Linked DNA regions of Homo sapiens: region 1 is linked to region 2. The links come from fine-mapping of genetic effects on gene expression. Tissue or cell type: subcutaneous fat. Region 2 holds a variant in brackets; the other region holds the start of a gene. All regions are shown on one strand. Distances are from middle to middle.

Evidence for each region. PIP is the estimated chance that this variant, and not a neighbour inherited with it, causes the effect.
Region 1: it holds the start of PHB2, and the variant in region 2 is fine-mapped to the expression of PHB2 in subcutaneous fat (FUSION, PIP 0.94).

The regions. Positions count from the first base shown.
Region 1 is chr12:6,966,111-6,974,110 of GRCh38, forward strand. It overlaps PHB2 (prohibitin 2), which reads right to left and starts at 4,554. Exons shown (of 10, transcript NM_001144831.2): 1 at 4,307-4,554; 2 at 4,086-4,170; 3 at 3,388-3,467; 4 at 2,301-2,485; 5 at 1,782-1,911; 6 at 1,566-1,669; 7 at 1,061-1,138; 8 at 314-390. The coding sequence starts at 4,433. It overlaps EMG1 (EMG1 N1-specific pseudouridine methyltransferase), which reads left to right and starts at 4,803. Exons shown (of 6, transcript NM_006331.8): 1 at 4,803-4,981. The coding sequence starts at 4,814. It also overlaps SCARNA12. RefSeq lists enhancers at 953-1,453, 4,478-5,080, 4,601-4,670, 4,761-4,940, 4,991-5,110.
Region 2 is chr12:6,403,085-6,411,344 of GRCh38, forward strand. It overlaps the pseudogene RPL31P10. Among named protein-coding and RNA genes, the nearest start is that of LTBR, 23 kb to the left of the region's middle. The variant T/TTTTATTTA (reference allele first, on the strand shown) is at 4,676.

The DNA of each region.
Region 1 (8,000 bases), 560 kb after region 2:
CTTTCCTAACATCCCTCCATTCACCAGAGGAGTTTGAGGGCTCTTGAGTAAGAAAACTGAGTATCATCTTTCATCACTTTTTGGTTAGATGAAAACTTTATAATTAAAGTGCTTTTTATGTGAATAATCCTATTTGATCTCATAAAATCAATCCTATGAGATGCAAGATAGAAACTGTCAACCACCCCCTTTTCTAATTTTGGTTCAATGTCTCTGAGCCATATGAATAGCTGTAGCAGGCTCCAGAGCCCAAACAACCAGACTCAGGTCCCACGTTCTTGGTGATACCCCACAGTGTGGCCACATCTCTCACCTGGTGAAACTTTCATCCTGTAGGTTCAGCACAAGGTTGTCAGCTGTGAGATAGATACGATTCTGTGATGTGGCGATCTACAGGGCAGGAAATAAGACAGATGCTTGCATTAAGCAAAGACCTCAATTCCGACCCCTGCAATTCAGCAGCTACTTAACATGGAACACATGCAGATTAGGGCAGGGGTGCAGCAATGAGTAACACATGGTTTCTGCTCGCACTTAGGGATCCAGAGCGCTGAGCAGCAGCTATGATTAGAACAAAAGGTCAGGGAACCCAGAGGAATCATTCTTGACAGGAGGAGTATCGGAGAAGCCAATTTTTTATTTATTTATTTTTGAGACGGAGTCTTGCTCTGTTGCTCAGGCTGGAGTGCAGTGGCATGATCTCAGCTCACTGCAACTTCCGCCTCCTGGGTTCAAGTGATTCTCCTGCCTCAGCCTCCTGCGTAGCTGGGAATATAGCTAAACGCCACCACAGCGGGCTCATTATCTTTTGTATTTTTAGTAGAGATGGGGTTTCACCATGTTGGCCAGGCTGGTCTCGAACTCCTGACCTCAGGTGATCCACCCACCTTGGCCTCCCAAAGTGCGGGGATTACATGCGTGAGCCACCGCGCCGGCCAGAGAAGCCAATCTGAGTAGAAACCGGAACAAGCAAGGTTCGAATTCCCTCACCTCAATGTGCCTTAACTGAAAGCACTTTCTCAAGGCAGCCCCATCAGAGACGCTGGGCTGACACACTCACCGTCTTGGAGATATTCTGGGCTGCTCGAATCTTGCGAAGTTTGATGTAGCCAGGGTTCTTGCTCAGTGCTTCTCCAAGGTGAGGAGGGTTAAGGTACACGCAAGGGCAGGTCTCAATCCCTGGCCCTGTCCTTACCACACTCCCTTGCTCCAGTCCTCCTCTGGGCTGTCAGATCCAAGGTTGCGCTCAGGTGGCTTGTGCCCAGCCCTACCGTGGACCCCACCTGTGGGCCTCCCTGCAGGCTGCTGCCAGGAACTAGGGGCAGCACCAGAAATGAAGGCAAGGCCACCAATGCTATTGATCTGGCCTTACAGTGGGGAGTCATGGCTCAGGTACTACCACTAAGATTTCAGATCTCATCTGTAGTCCCCACCCCCAACAAGGAGCCAAGGGCCAGAGAGCACGGAGTCGCATTCGCCTTAGTCTCATCAGCCTGCCCATGAAGGAGAATGGGGAACTCAGGTGCCCTAGGGGCTGGGCTGAGATCTCTCCAGCAGAAGGATATCATCTTGGCAGCCTCGGCCTCACCCTCGGCCTGCACAATTTTCTGCCGCTGTTCCTGCTTTGCTTTTTCTACCAAGAATTGGGCCCGCTGGGCCTCCTGCTGGGCTGTGGTGGGAGAGAGTCAGGGAGACCCTGTCCTGGGTCAGGAGCCCCACCCATGGAGTCTTTCCTCCTCCTGCATCTCAGAAGCCCTCACCCCACGGCTCTTGCGACTCACCCACTTGTTTGGCTTCTACAGCAGCTGTGTACTCTCGGCTAAAGCTCAGCTCTGTGATGGCCACATCATCCAGGATGAGGCTGAAGTCCTTGGCCCTCTCTGTCAGCTCCCGGCGGATCAACAGGGATACCTGAGGGCAGGGGTGAAGAGGGGAAGGGAGGGGTGGTTTGAGGGGACTGGGGAGCTGAAAGGAAGGTTGCGACCCCTAACCCTTCACTCTCAATACAACATGCACTGCCTTAGCTTCCTGTCAGGCAAACCTGTAACATAAGCCTCTCTGCTCGAAGAGGTGCAGGAAAAGCCAAGACTTGGCCATTTTCCTCTGTGCTTCCTAACACCGAGTGCTATCGAGTTCTAATGCTGGCTCTCCTTATTTCACAGTGGCAATTAGCACAGCTTTTAGGTGGAAATGGCACTAGGGTGACAATGCTTTTCTAATAAGCTGCCTTTCCTAATTCCCAATACTCTGGGCCTAGGAAGGAAAGGCTGACACCACGCAGATGGTGGTGGGAGTCAGACCTGGGCCCGCTGGGTGATCAGCTGTGAGGCATTGAACTTGGCCACCACACTCTTGAGCACCTCGTTGACAATGGACGGCAACACTCGTTCCTCGTAGTCCAGCCCTAGGCGCTGGTACATGCTAGGAAGCTCCTGAGCATTGGGTCGAGACAACACTCGCAGGGAGATATTCACCATCTGTAGGTCTGAGATTGAGGTCAGCAGTGGCTGGTCAAGGCCAAACACCCTTTCCCAAGCATTTTCTCCTTCATGTTCCTCCCTGTATGCCCTGTGCAATGGTGTACAGCCTGGCACTACCCTGGGGGGAGGAGAGTTAATCAGGCTGACAAGGAAGACAAGACGCAGCACAGCTGAAATGCACCCTCACCCACTGTGAAGCCTTGAACTGCAAACCCCGTCACCAGCAGAGCTGACTACTCTTTCCCCCTCTGTACTCTGTGCAACCTCTAACGTGGGCGCTTTCGTGCTGTACCGTAATCATGTCTCCTGTAAGGACTTGGGGGACAAGAATTGTGTTTAATGAATCTTTTATTCCCAGGGCCCAGTCTAGTAAATGAATAAGCGACCTGCACTAGGTATAGCACAAAGAAGTACATTACAGGTTACAGGTGAGCTACCTGACCCAGGGTGTATATGTGTGCGTGGGTGGGGAGGAGGAAGAGGTCTGGGGAACTCAAAGGCACGGCTTTTATGTATGGTCTAGAAGGAGAGAACAGGTGAACTAGTCAAGCTTAGGGACAAACTTCTCCAGAACAGAGTGTACTAGTGGATGTAACTGTAGATATAGTAAGTCAAGCAGTTAGAAAAAAAAGGCTTTAAAACAAAGCTTTGATCTAGGCAGTGAACAAGACGAGGGACAAACAATACTCTTATTGAATACACGTCAGGGAGGAGACAGTAAAAAGCACGCAAACACAGTGTGTTCAGAATTTGCTGCTTTGACCCCAGGAGGCAGGTATTTTTGTTACAGCTCTTGCAGATGTGGAAAGAGGCCTAAAGGCCTGACACTACCATATTCCCCTGGGGTTTCTTGCCAGCTACCTTGATCATCCCACCTGCCATGTGATTACCAAGTGCTCAGACCTACCTTTGGAGCCTGTAGGGGAGGAGATTTTTCGAGGTCTGGCCCGAATGTCATAGATAATGGGGTACTGGAACCAAGGGATCCTGGAGAGGACAGGGATAGGTATTAAGAGGCCACAGTTTCGGCCGGGCGCGGTGGCTCACGCCTGTAATCCCAGCACTTTGGGAGGCCGAGGCGGGCGGATCATTTGAGGTCAGGAGTTCGAGACCAGCTTGATCTACATAGTGAAACCCCGTCTCTACTAAAATACAAAAATTAGCCGGGCGTGGTGGCGGGCGCCTGTAATCCCAGCTACTCGTGAGGCTGAGGCAGGAGAATCGCTTGAAATCAGGAGGCGGAGGTTGCAGTGAGCCGAGATCGCGCCACTGCACTCCAGCCTGGGCGACAGAGCAAGACTCCCTCTCCAAAAAAAAAAAAAGAAAAGGCCGCAGTTTCACTAGCCTTGCCCGGTTTCCCCTCACCACGCGTTTTTTGGCCTGCTCCTCTCCACGACCACAGACAAGGAGAGATTCTCTTGTCCCTCTGGAAAACAACAGTTTGTATGCTGCTGGAGGTTCTCGCAGCACCCACTATCCTAGGGGCAGGGATGAGGAGGGTGGGAAAAGAGCAGCGTTGAATCCTGTTGCACGTCCGACTATAGCCACTGCTGGGTCGGCGTCAAGGGTGAAAGGTCAGGGTCAGCAGGCTCTGCCCGCCATTACCTGAAGTGAAGGCCCTCGGCCAGGATAGTGTCCTGCTGCACTCCACCGATCCGATTGAAGAAGATGGCTCTGTGCCCGCCTTCCACTGTGGGGAGATGGGTGGTGATCAGGCCAGGCCGCTGCTCAGAGGAAATGCTAGGCCCGTGGAGGGGCGCGGGGACAGGGCAAGGGGTTTGGGGGAGGGACTGGAAGCGTCCGGCGAGCAGGCGGAGGTTGCTCACCGGTGAACACAGATTCGCGCACACCGTAGGCCACGGCGCCGGCCCCCAGCAACAGCTTCAGGGCCGTGCCCATGCCCCGGGGCCCGGCGGGCAGCCGTCCCGCCAAGTCCTTCAAGTTCTGGGCCATGTCTGATCTTGAGGCCGGCGGCACTGGAGGTCAGAAGGGGGTGCCGGCCCGCCTCTACCCCGCTCCGGCTTAGGTACTGCACCCTTCACACGAGGGTTCGGGCCCGTAAGGCTGGCGAAAGAAAGGGCAGCGGAAGTGCGCTCCCTTTGAAACCCTCCCCCTTAGCCCACTACGGACCCGAACTTCGCGCACAGGAATCGCGCATACGGAAGTCCCGCCCCTTTCTGGAAGGCTGCCCTCCCAGGGAGGGCAGCGCAAGACAGCAAGTCATCTCCATTTCCTGGCCCACTTTCAAAATGGCAGCCGGAAGGAAATTTGTGATTAGAAGCCGCGCTGTTCTTATTTAAGAGCGTTAGCGCAACTTCCGGTATTGTTGCAAGATGGCCGCGCCCAGTGATGGATTCAAGCCTCGTGAACGAAGCGGTGGGGAGCAGGCACAGGACTGGGATGCTCTGCCACCCAAGCGGCCCCGACTAGGGGCAGGAAACAAGATCGGAGGCCGTAGGCTTATTGTGGTGCTGGAAGGGGCCAGTCTGGAGACAGTCAAGGTAGTTTGGGACAGGAAGTGGAGAAGTAGTAAATCGATAGGTTGGGACTCCGTGGAATGAGGGTAAGGGGCCCAGAGTGGATGTAGAAAGCAGAGAGGGGTGAAAGATGCTTTTGAAGGAAGGTGGCTTGGTTGGCTTTGCGTTGATTTGACATCCTGGGATGGTAGTACTCATTTTTCTTTCTTTTTTTTTTTTTTTTTGAGACGGAGTCTCGCTCTGTCGCCCAGGCTGGAGTGCAGTTGCGCGACCTCGGCTCACTGCAACTTCTGCCTCCCGCCTTCAAACAGTTCTCCTGACTCAGCCTCTGGAGTAGCTGGGACTACAGGCAGGTGCCACCACGCCCGGCTAATTTTTTTGTATTTTTAGTTCAGATGGGGTTTCACCATGTTGGCCACGCTGGTCTCGAACTCCTGACCTCAAGTGATCCGCCCGCCTCGGCCTCCCAAAGTGTTGGGATTAGAGGCGTGAGCCACTGTGCCCGGCCGGTAGTACTCATTTTCTTTTGCTCTTTTTGAATGATATTCTAGCCCTCACCTCCTTGCTTCCAATTGGTTTACCAGGATTCTGTGGTATAGTAGTCTAAGCAGAGGAAAGTTTCGTTCCTTGCGTCATTCCACATCCCAAGACAAGTTACTGGGCAGATGAGAAACGTAGTTATGTAGCCTAGTCTGCCCACACTTTTTGTAAGGGCTTCGTGTTTCAATTCATTAGTATCCATAGTCACCTCTCTCTAATATCCACCTATGATACACTGTCCAGACCTGGTTATTATTTAAAACTTTTACATCTGCATTTTTATCTATCATTCATCTCTTTCCCCACATGTAATAGAACCAGCAGTTCTCTATCTTAAAGCCTTGGGCAGTGTTCTTCCTCCTCCTTTCTCTTACCCGTTAGAACTAATTGAATAGGCCCAGAAGAAATCGCATTGGTTTAGAAGTCAGGCCAGGATTTTAATCTTCGTTCTAAATACACTTTTTTTTTTTTTTTTTTTTGAGATGGAGTCTCAGTCTCTACCAGGCTGGAGTGCAGTGGCACGATCTTGGCTCACTGCAGCCTCCGCCTCCCGGGTTCAATCGATTCTCCTGCCTCAGCCTCCAGAGTAGCTGGGATTACAGGCCTGCGCCTGTAATCTATTAAAAGAATAGAAAACATGATTATATCCTACTAATGGGTTGAAACTGTATTATTCATTCAAGAAGGTTTTTTTCTTCTATAACTAAGGGTGTCTCATGGACTTAGTTCTTGGTCATTTGTTCTTTGTGCTCTCTGTGACATTACTTCAACTATTCAATTTCAAAATCTACATCCCTTTTTTCGCAGACTTTTTGGAGCCATATATCTCAAGAATGTTGCTAGACATATACATTCCAGTGATACATAAAAACTTAACCTTCCAAAACTTGTATTTGTATATAACAGTTTGTTTTTAGACTTTTTACTGACCACCCTAATGCTCCTTGGGACTCCAAATTGCAACTTGGAATTATTTCTTTTAGCTGCTACAGATGTAGTCCACTTCTTTAACATCAAACTTCTGATGTCTTTTCCAGTGTACAGAGAGTTGTTAGGATAGTGTCTGTCAGTCATTCCCATCCTGCCCTGCTTACTCCAGAATTATTTTTGGCTTTGTGCTTGATACATTAGGATTCTGTGGTTTACAAAGCAGCTTCATATATAATCACTGCCCTTTAGTGTCTCAGCTCCCAATTTTCCTCAAAATTTCCTTTCTTCGTTTCCACTTTTTCTTTTTTGTTTCTTTTTTGAGATAGGGTCTTGCTCTGTTGCCTGGGCAACAGAGTGCAGTGGTGTGATGGTTCACTGCAGCCTCTACTTCCCTGGCTCAAGCAGTCCTCCCACCTCATCCTCCTGAGTAACTGGGACTGCCAGCAAATGGCACTGCGCCTGGCTAATTTTTTTTTTTTTTTTTGTGAGACAGGGTCCCACCGTGTTGCCCAGGCCGGTCTCAAATTCCTGGGCTCAAGTGATCCTTCCACCTCGGCCTCCTAAAGTGTTGGGATCACAGGCATAAGCCACCACACCTGGCTACTTTGTCTTGATTCCATCTGTACCTTTGCTCATGCCAGTCTTTCTTTTTTCTTTTTTTTGAGACAGGGTCTTGCTGGAGTGCAGTGGTACAGTCTTGGCTCACTGCAATCTCTGTCTCCTGGGCTCAAGCCATCCTCCCACCTTAGCCTCCCAAGTAGCTAGGACTACAGGCATGTGCCACCATGCCCAGCTAATTTTTGTATTTTTAGTAGAGATGGGGTTTCGCCATGTTGCCCAGGCTGGTCTTGAACTCCTGACCTTAAGTGATTTGCCTGCCTTGGCCTCCCAGAGTGCTGGGATTACAGCCGTGAGCCACTGCATCTGCCCCCATGCCCGTCTTAAAACTGGGAATAACCCCTCTTCCTTTTACTTCTGAGAGTTTTCTTTGATTAAACTGCCTCCTGCATCATTAGTTTTCACATTTCTTTTTTTTGAGATGGAGTCTCGCTCTGTTGCCCGGGCTGGAGTGCAGTGGCGCTGCAAGCTCCGCCTCCTGGGTTCATGCCATTCTCCTGCCTCTGCCTCCCAAGTAGCTGGGACTACAGGCGCCTGCCACCATGCCCGGCTAATTTTTTATATTTTTAGTAGAGATGGGGTTTCACCGTGTTAGCCACGATGGTCTCAATCTCCTGACCTTGTGATCTGCCCGCCTCGGCCTCCCAAAGTGCTGGGATTACAGGCGTGAGCCACCACGCCCGGCCTTCACATTTCTTGTTCAGATTTGCAGCTCTTCACTTAGTGCATGTTTGGTGTACGCAAACTGAGGGTGGTGACTCGATATTTTGCACAGTACCTACTTACTGCTCCTGTAATAAACACAGCATTCAGCCTTGCTAACTACTAACTCCTGCCTAGTTCCAGGATGTCTCATTGGCCTTGCCTAACAGCCACAGGTTTTTTAATTAAATCCAGTGTATTAGTAGATAATGTGAAGTCACAGGTTGTGCCCTTCCTCCTGTTTCCCTCTCAG
Region 2 (8,260 bases):
TTAGATATTTTGCTTGTTATTAAATTGGATCATTCGGCAGTGTGCAGTGGCTCACGCCTATAATCTCAGCACTTTGGAAGCCCTAGGCGGCTGAATCGCTTGAGGTCAGGAGTTCGAGACCAGTGTGACCAACATGGCGAAACCCCATCTCTACTAAAAATACAAACATTAGGCCGGGCATGGTGGCTCACGCCTGTAATCCCAGCACTTTGGGAGGCCGAGGTGGGCGGATCATCTGAGGTCAGGAGTTCAAGACCAGCCTGACCAACATGGAGAAAGCCCGTCTCTACTAAAAATACAAAATTAACCGGGCATGGTGGAGCATGCTTGTAATCCCAGCTACTCGGGAGGCTGAGGCAGGAGAATCACTTTAACCGGGGAGGCACATGTTGTGGTGAGCCGAGATCGTGCCATTGCAATCCAGCCTTGGCAACAAGAGCAAAACTCCATCTCAAAAAAAAAAAAAAAAACGCAAAATACAAAAATTAGCCAGGTGTGGTGGCACGTGCCTGTAATAATCCCAGCTACTCAGGAGGCTGAGGCAGGAGAATCGCTTGAACACGGGAGGCAGAGGTTGCCGTAAGCCAAGATCACGCCACTGCACTCCAGCTTGGGTGACAGAGTGAGATTCTGTCTCAAAAAAAAAAAAAAAGAAAGAAAGAAAGAAAGAAAAAGAAGAATTATTTATTCTGGATAGAAGTCCTTTATCAGATACATTATTTGCAAATATTTTCTCCCAGGCTGTGGATTGTCTATTCATTTTCTCAACCTATCTTTCACAGAACAAAAGTTTTTATTTGTGATAAGGTACAATTCATCATTTTTTTCTTTATGAATTGTGTTTCCAGTACCAGAAAACTTATCACCAAACCTAAGGTTACACACACACAGGGTCTCCTGTGCTTTTTTCTAGATGTCTTACTTTCTACATTTAAGTTTATGAGCCATTTTTTGGTGTAAGTGTGAGGTACGTGTTGAGGTTTTTTGGTTTTGTTTTTACATATGAATGTCTAATTTTTCCAGCACTGTTTGTTGAAAAGACTGTTCTTTCACCACTGGATTGCCTTTGCATCTTTGTCAAAAATCAGTTGACATTATTTGTGTGGGTTTATTTCTGGTCTCTCTATTGGCTCTATTCACCTAAGTTGTCTACTCTTTCGCTAATACCACACTAATTGCTTTCTAATAAGTCTAATAAGTGGTAGAGTAATTTCTCCTACTATTTTTTTAGTTCCTTTTCATTTCTTTCCCTTTTCATATAAATTTTAGAATCAGTTTGTCAATTTCTATCAAAAAAAAGCTTCCTATGATTTTGATTGATAATGCATTGAATCTATAGATCAAACTGGGGAGAATTAACATATTTACAATATTGAATTTTCTAATCTATGAATACAGTATATCTTTCTATTTATTTATACCTTTTTTTTTTTTTTTTTGAGGCGAGGTATCACTCTGTCACCCAGACTAGAGTGCAGGCTAGAGTGCAGTGGTGCAATCATAGCTCACTGCAACCTTGAACTCCTGTGCTCAAGTGATCTTCCCACCTCAGTCTCCTAAGTAGCCGAGAGTACAGGCACATGCCACCATGCCTGAGTAATTTTTTATTTTGTGTAGAGACTGCGTCTTTCTGTGTCGTCCAAGCTGGTCTCGAACTTCTGGCCTCAAGTGATCCCCCTGCCTCAACCTCCCAAAGCACTGGGATTACAGGTGCACCCAGCCCACACCCAGCCCACACCCAGCCCCCACCCAGCCTACACCTAATCATTTATTTATATCTTTGTTGATTTCCTTTTTCTTTTCTTTTTTTTAATTTAGCCAGCTTTTTTTAAATTTTAACTTTTTTTTGGAGGGGAAAGGGAGTGGTCATGGACATACTGAAGTAGACACAAAAATATAGAGAATACTGCACTTCCCAGGGCTCGTCACACGTGCTTCAAAAATTACCAACAACTTGCCATTTTGTTTCATTATCTGCACCCACAATGGTGGATGAGGGAGTCTAAAAAATATCCCAAACATGAAATCTCAAAAATGTGATTTTAATCATGAATATTTTCACAAACATCCTAACAGATATGAATATAGAGAAAATACACTAAGATTTCACACCTAAGAAAATTTTAAAAATGACTTATAACATTATCCAATACCTAGCCCTTAAAGAAAGGAAATCCTGAATTGTCTGAAATATTTTTTATACTGATTTTGTCTGAATGAGGTCCCACCAGCTCCAAATATGGCATCTGATGGCTGTTCCTCTTAAATCTATTATAATCCATAAATTTACCCAAGTCTCCAAGTAGCCTGTCTGCTCTTTGAAAAAGGAATTGAGAGACCATAATCTGAGTGAAAATTCTCACTGATCATGGATTGTCATTGCTTTTAAACCATTCTTTGAAAAGTATTGCAGAAAAAAATGTTTTGTTTTCTTTTTTTTTGAGACAGAGTCTCACTCTGTCTCCCAGGCTGGAGTGCAATGGCGCAATCTCGGCTCACTGCATCCTCCACCTCCCAGATTCAAGCAATTCTCCTGCCCCAGCCTCCCGAGTAGCTGGGACTACAGGCGCGCTCCACCACGCCCTGCTAATTTTTGTATTTTTAGTAAAGACCGGGTTTCACCATGTTGGCCAGGCTGGTCTCAAACTCCTGACCTCCTGTGATCCGCCTGCCTCAGCCTGCCAAAGTGCTGGGATTACAGGCGTGAGCCACCGCGCCCGGCCAAAGGTGTGTTTTTTATGAGAGTATTTTTAAAAACATTCAAATTGTCGGTCACAGCTCCTTGCCTATGCGCCTAAAAAGAGATAGCCCAAGACAGACGGGGGAAAGAAAAGGGGAGACAGAAACAAAAAGAAAACTGGCAAACAGAGGAGAAGTCCAAAAGCCCAACTCCCATAAGTCAAGACTTCCCACAGTTCTCTAAGTCAGCAAATGAATGTAATTTAAACTGCTTTAAACGTCATACAAAAATAAATCCTTTTTAGTAAATCGATAAACAGAGGCATCTCCGTGACGACTGGTGGCAGCATGTACTCCTCCTTTTCTAAAACAAGGAGTTCTAAAACAACTCAAGGCAGCAGAGAGCCCTGAGTTGCAAACATGAAAAGCATAACTTTCTCGAGTTGGCTGTTAAGTGTAATAGGAGAGGCACCACTCCACTCCTACCTCTCCTTTCTTTAACCAATGCATTTTGGCTACAGAAGAAATTATGCCTATTCTTAGTCACTATTAAGCACATATACAATGTCGAAAATTGAACAGTACTCCAAGAGGGTGCAAAATGACTACATGCCACTTTAACTGAGGCTTCCAAAAATTGAGATTTCTACTTATAAGGAATGTGGTACACATTAGAACTACTGAGTCCCATGGTCATCCATGCATTACCTTACCCTTTTTGTATAACTTATAGAAATGGGTCCAAAAAGACGTTGTGAGATATGAGGTATGAAGTGTTCAGTAAGTTCATTGATGGTCCTGCTAGCAATAGCATGTAAGTGAAGCATATCCAAATCTAGAGTAAGTGTTTATCTCAGTGAAGACAAATCCCTGCCCCATCCATGACAAAATACTTGCAAGAATACAAGAATACTTCCCCTGACATATGGGACACTTAGCAGCATCAGCATCCAGAGGTCAGCCTTGGTGAGCTAAGTCTATACTATAGAGCTCAAGTATAACCTCTACCACTGCCTGCCACCCTAGTCACATTTTTTTTTTTTTTTTTTGAGATAGAGTCTCACTCCGTCACCCAGGCTGGAGTGCAATGGCGTGATCTCAGCTCACTACAACCTCCACCTCCCAGGTTCAAGTGATTCTCCTGCCTCAGCCTCCCGAGTAGCTGGGATTGCAGTCACCCGCCACCAGGCCCGGCTAATATTTGTATTCTTAGTAGAGATGGGGTTTCACCATGTTGGCCAGGCTGGTCTCAAACTCCTGACCTCAGATGATCCACCCACCTCGGCCTCCCAAAGTGCTGGCATTATAGGCGTGAGCCACCACGCTGGCCACATTGTTTACAAATAAATCACTTGGGCAGTAAGTGGGGTGATACGAAGAGACTACATGACAGCCATATGGTTGATGTGTACCTGATTGCTGATAGCCTCCTCTGAAGAGTGGGAATTTCGATTAGCATTCACGTGGGACATTATTCTCATATTCTGGGACCGTTCTGGGAAATTCATCCACATCACTGTTTCCTGAAACTTCTTGTCAACACAACCTTCACTTTTGCCCACTTAAAATCTCTGTCTATCCACACCATTAGCCATGCACATTCAGTTTAGATCAGTGTCTTAGGTCACGCTCCTTCCAGAAAAAGTAAACAATGACATTCAATACTCCAAATACTGCTGAGTGGCAGCAATTCTTTCCCTATTGCCAATTATGGACATATTTGACTGGGGTAATATTATTACGGCTTCTAATACTACTGTTACAATTGGCTTCAGTAGTATTAGCCAACATATGTTGAATGCTTACTATGTACAGGACAGTGTTCTAAGCATACTAAAACTATTCGCTCATGAGAGGCACGATTACCTCTCCATTTTTAAAATGAGGGGAAAAGCCAGAGGAAAATAAGAAGAAAAAAGAAAAAAGCCAATTTGTCTGGAACTGGTTAGTAATGGGCTGAACTTGTAGCATTCAGTTTTTCTTTTCTTTCTTTCTC[T/TTTTATTTA]TTTATTTATTTATTTATTTATTTATTTATTTATTTATTTCTTGAGACGGAATCTCCATCGCCCAGGCTGGAGTGCAGTGGTGCAGTCTTGGCTCACCGCCTCCTCCGCCTCCTGGGGTCAAGCAATTCTCTTGCTTCAGCCTCCCAAGTAGCTGGGATTACAGGCGTGTGCCAACACACTGGGCTAATTTTTGTATTTTTAGTAGAGACGGGGTTTCACCATGTTGGCCAGACTGGTCTTGAACTCCTGACCGCAAGTGATCCGCCCGCCTCGGCCTCCCAAAGTGCTGGGATTACAGGCAGGAGCCACCATGCCCGGCCCCATGTTGATTTCTTTCGTCAGTATTTTGTAGTTTTTAGCACACATATCTCCCACGTATTTTGTTATATTTATACCTAAAAACTTCATGGGGGCTGCTATTGTAAATGGTATTCTATAAACTACAGTACGTTGTTTCTTTGTATAGATCCAAGATTTTGATTATATTTCTTCTTCTTCTTTCTTTTTTGAGACGAAGTTTCACTCTGTTCAACCCAGGCTGACACAATCTCGGCTCCCTGCGACCTCCGCCTCCCGGGTTCAAGCAATTCTCCTGCCTCAGCCACTTGAGTAGCTGGGACTACAGGCGCCCACCACCACGCCCAGATAATTTTTGTGTTTTTAGTAGAGACAGGGTTTCACCATGTTGGCCAGGCTGGTCTCAAACTCCTGACCTCAAGTGATCACCCGCCTTGGCCCCCCAAAGTGCTGGGATTACAGGCGTGAGCCACCACACCCAGCCTCTTCTTCTTAGAGAACTTGCTTTGACATTTATTATAAAGTAGGTCTGCTGGCAATCAACTTCCTCAGTTTCTGTTTGTCTGATAAACTTTTAATTTTGGCCTGGTGTAGTTGCTAATGCTTGTAATCCCAGCATTTTGGGAGGCTGAGGTGGGAGGATCACTGGAGTCCAGGAGTTTCAGACCATCCTGGGAAACGTAGTGAGACCCCGTCTCTAAAAAAATAAAAATAAAAATAGAAAACTCTTAATTTGGGCCAGGCACAGTGGCTCACGCCTGTAATCCTAGCACTTTGGGAGGCCAAGGTTGGTGGATCACCTGAAGTCAGGAGTTTGAGACTAGCCTGGCCAACATGGCGAAAACCCGTCTCTACTAAAAATACAAAAATTAGCTGGGTATGATGGCAGGCACCTAGCTGAGGCAGGAGAATCACTTGAACCCGGGAGGCGGAGGTTGCAGTGAGCCAAGATCATGCCACTGCACTCCAGCCTGAGTGATGGAGCGAGACTCCATCTCAAAAAAAAAAAAAAAAAAGATATTACTCCATTTCATTTTGCTTTTATTGTTTCTGACTAGCAGTCTGCTGTAATTCTTATCCTCGCTCCTCGGTAAGATATTATGTTTTTTCCCCCTTGGCTGACTTCCAGATTTTCTTTCTCTTTGGTTTTCAGCAGTTTTAATATGATATGCCTAGATGCATGGGTTTGGTGAGGGGCTGTGTTGTTTTGGTATTTATCCTGCTTGGTGTTCTCTGAGCTTCCTTGATCTGTGCTTTTCTGTCTGTTACTAATTTTGGATAATTCTAAGCCATTATCTCTTCAAATGTTTCTCCTGTCTTATTCTTTTTGTTCGTTTGTTTGTTTGTTTAACTAAGTCTGATTAGACAAATCCTGTCCAAGTCTTTCTTCTCCTTCTGGAATTCCAATTATGGGCATGTTAACTCATTTGGTATTCTTGGATGGTGTCTTCTTTCTTTCTTTTTTGTTGTTGTTCTGTTTTGTTTTTTACCCACTCTTTTTTTGCACTTCAGTTTGGGTAATTCCTCTTTATTTTTTTGCAATTTTATAACTTTATTTGATGTATTTGACTATCAGCGATTAGTTCTCATCCACATTGACTGTCTGTAGATTTTTGAAAGTGGTAGCAAATACATAGGTAACCAAAGTATAGAGCTTATTTGTGAATCTTCATCCTCATTACGTTTTCTGGACAGCCGCACATGGATTCGGTGTCGGACATTCCTTATTCCTTTGGCCCAGACAGCTTTGTTGAGCCTGGTATCAATGCGCACATCTGGAGTTTCCATCTCCTTCATGGCAAATTTCCGAATCTCTTTGAGTGCCCGAGGGGCACGCTTCTTGAAGCCTACTCCACAAATGCGCTTGTGAATGTTGATGGTGTATTCTCGGGTCACCACTTCGTTGATGGCAGAACGGCCCTTTTTCTTCTCGCCACCCTTCTTTGTGGGAGCCATTCTGCCATGTCCAAGTTGGAAAGGGAGTTTGGGAAATTTCTATTGACCTCTACACCCAAGGTCACTGATTCTTTTCTCAGCTATACTGAGTCTACTGATGAACCAGTCAAAGGTGTTCTTCATTTCTGTCACCACGATTTTATTTCAAGCATTTCCATTTTATTCTTATGGTTTCCTCTGCTGAATTTATCCATCTTCTTTTGGCATGTTGTCTACCTTTTCCATTAAATCCTTTAACATAATCATGTTACTTTAAATTCCATGTCTGATGTCATATCTGAGTCTGGTTCTGATTTTTTTTTTTTGTCTTTTTAGATTGTGTCTTTTTCTTTTTTTTGAAACGGAGTATTGCTCTGTCACCCAGGTTGGAGTGCAGTGGCATGATCTCTGTTCATTGCAACCTCTGCTTCCTGGGTTCAAGCAATTCTCCTGCCTCAGCCTCCCCAGTAGCTGGGTTGACAGGCATGCGCTACCATGCCTAGCTAATTTTTGTATTTGTAGAGAGGGGTTTCACCATACTGGCCAGGCTGATCTTGAACTCCTGACCTCGTCATCCGCCTGCCTTGGCCTCCCTAAGTACTGAGACTACAGGTGTGAGCCACCATGCCCAGTCCAGATTGTGTTTTTTCTTTCCTTTTTGTATACCTTGTGGTTTTCATTGAAAGCTGGATATGCTGTATAACACAACAGATACTGACATAAATATTTTGTATTCTTGAAGATAAGCATTCATTTCTTTCTGCTACTTCTCTAGTATAGAGATTTCCATTAATGTAGTCAGGAGGGCTGGGTTTGAAGTTTGCTTTTGCACCAACATATATTATTATCCTCAGTGCATCAGGGGCTTAAAATTCCTCTAGTGGTGCCTTGTTTTTGTCTCTTGGATTTGTATCTTCCTTTTGCACTGTTCCCTAAATAAAGTCTGTCTCTTGCAAGTTCTCCCAGATACATTCTTGTATTATTTTTCACTGGAGGCCTGTCATGTGGTGGTAGGCTATGAAGGAGGTTATGTGTTCCCTTGTGTTATGATTGAGGCTCAGCCTTAGGTAGGCACTATGAACCTGGATCTTGGGAGTGTGGCCTTCATAATTGCCCTTCCTCCAGGTATAATGGTTGGCCTGGCAATTATTCCGGTCCTCACTAAAAGGAAGAACTTCTTCTTTTTTCCCCTGTTCCCTTCCCCTAATTTCAGTGGGTTTCCACCAATGCCCTCTGCCCATAAGTTTTGTGTTTTCTGTTTTTTTGAGACAGAGTCTCACTCTGTCCCCCAGGCTGAAGTGCAGTGGTGCGATGTTGGCTCACTACAACCTCTGCGTGATGGGTTGAAGCGA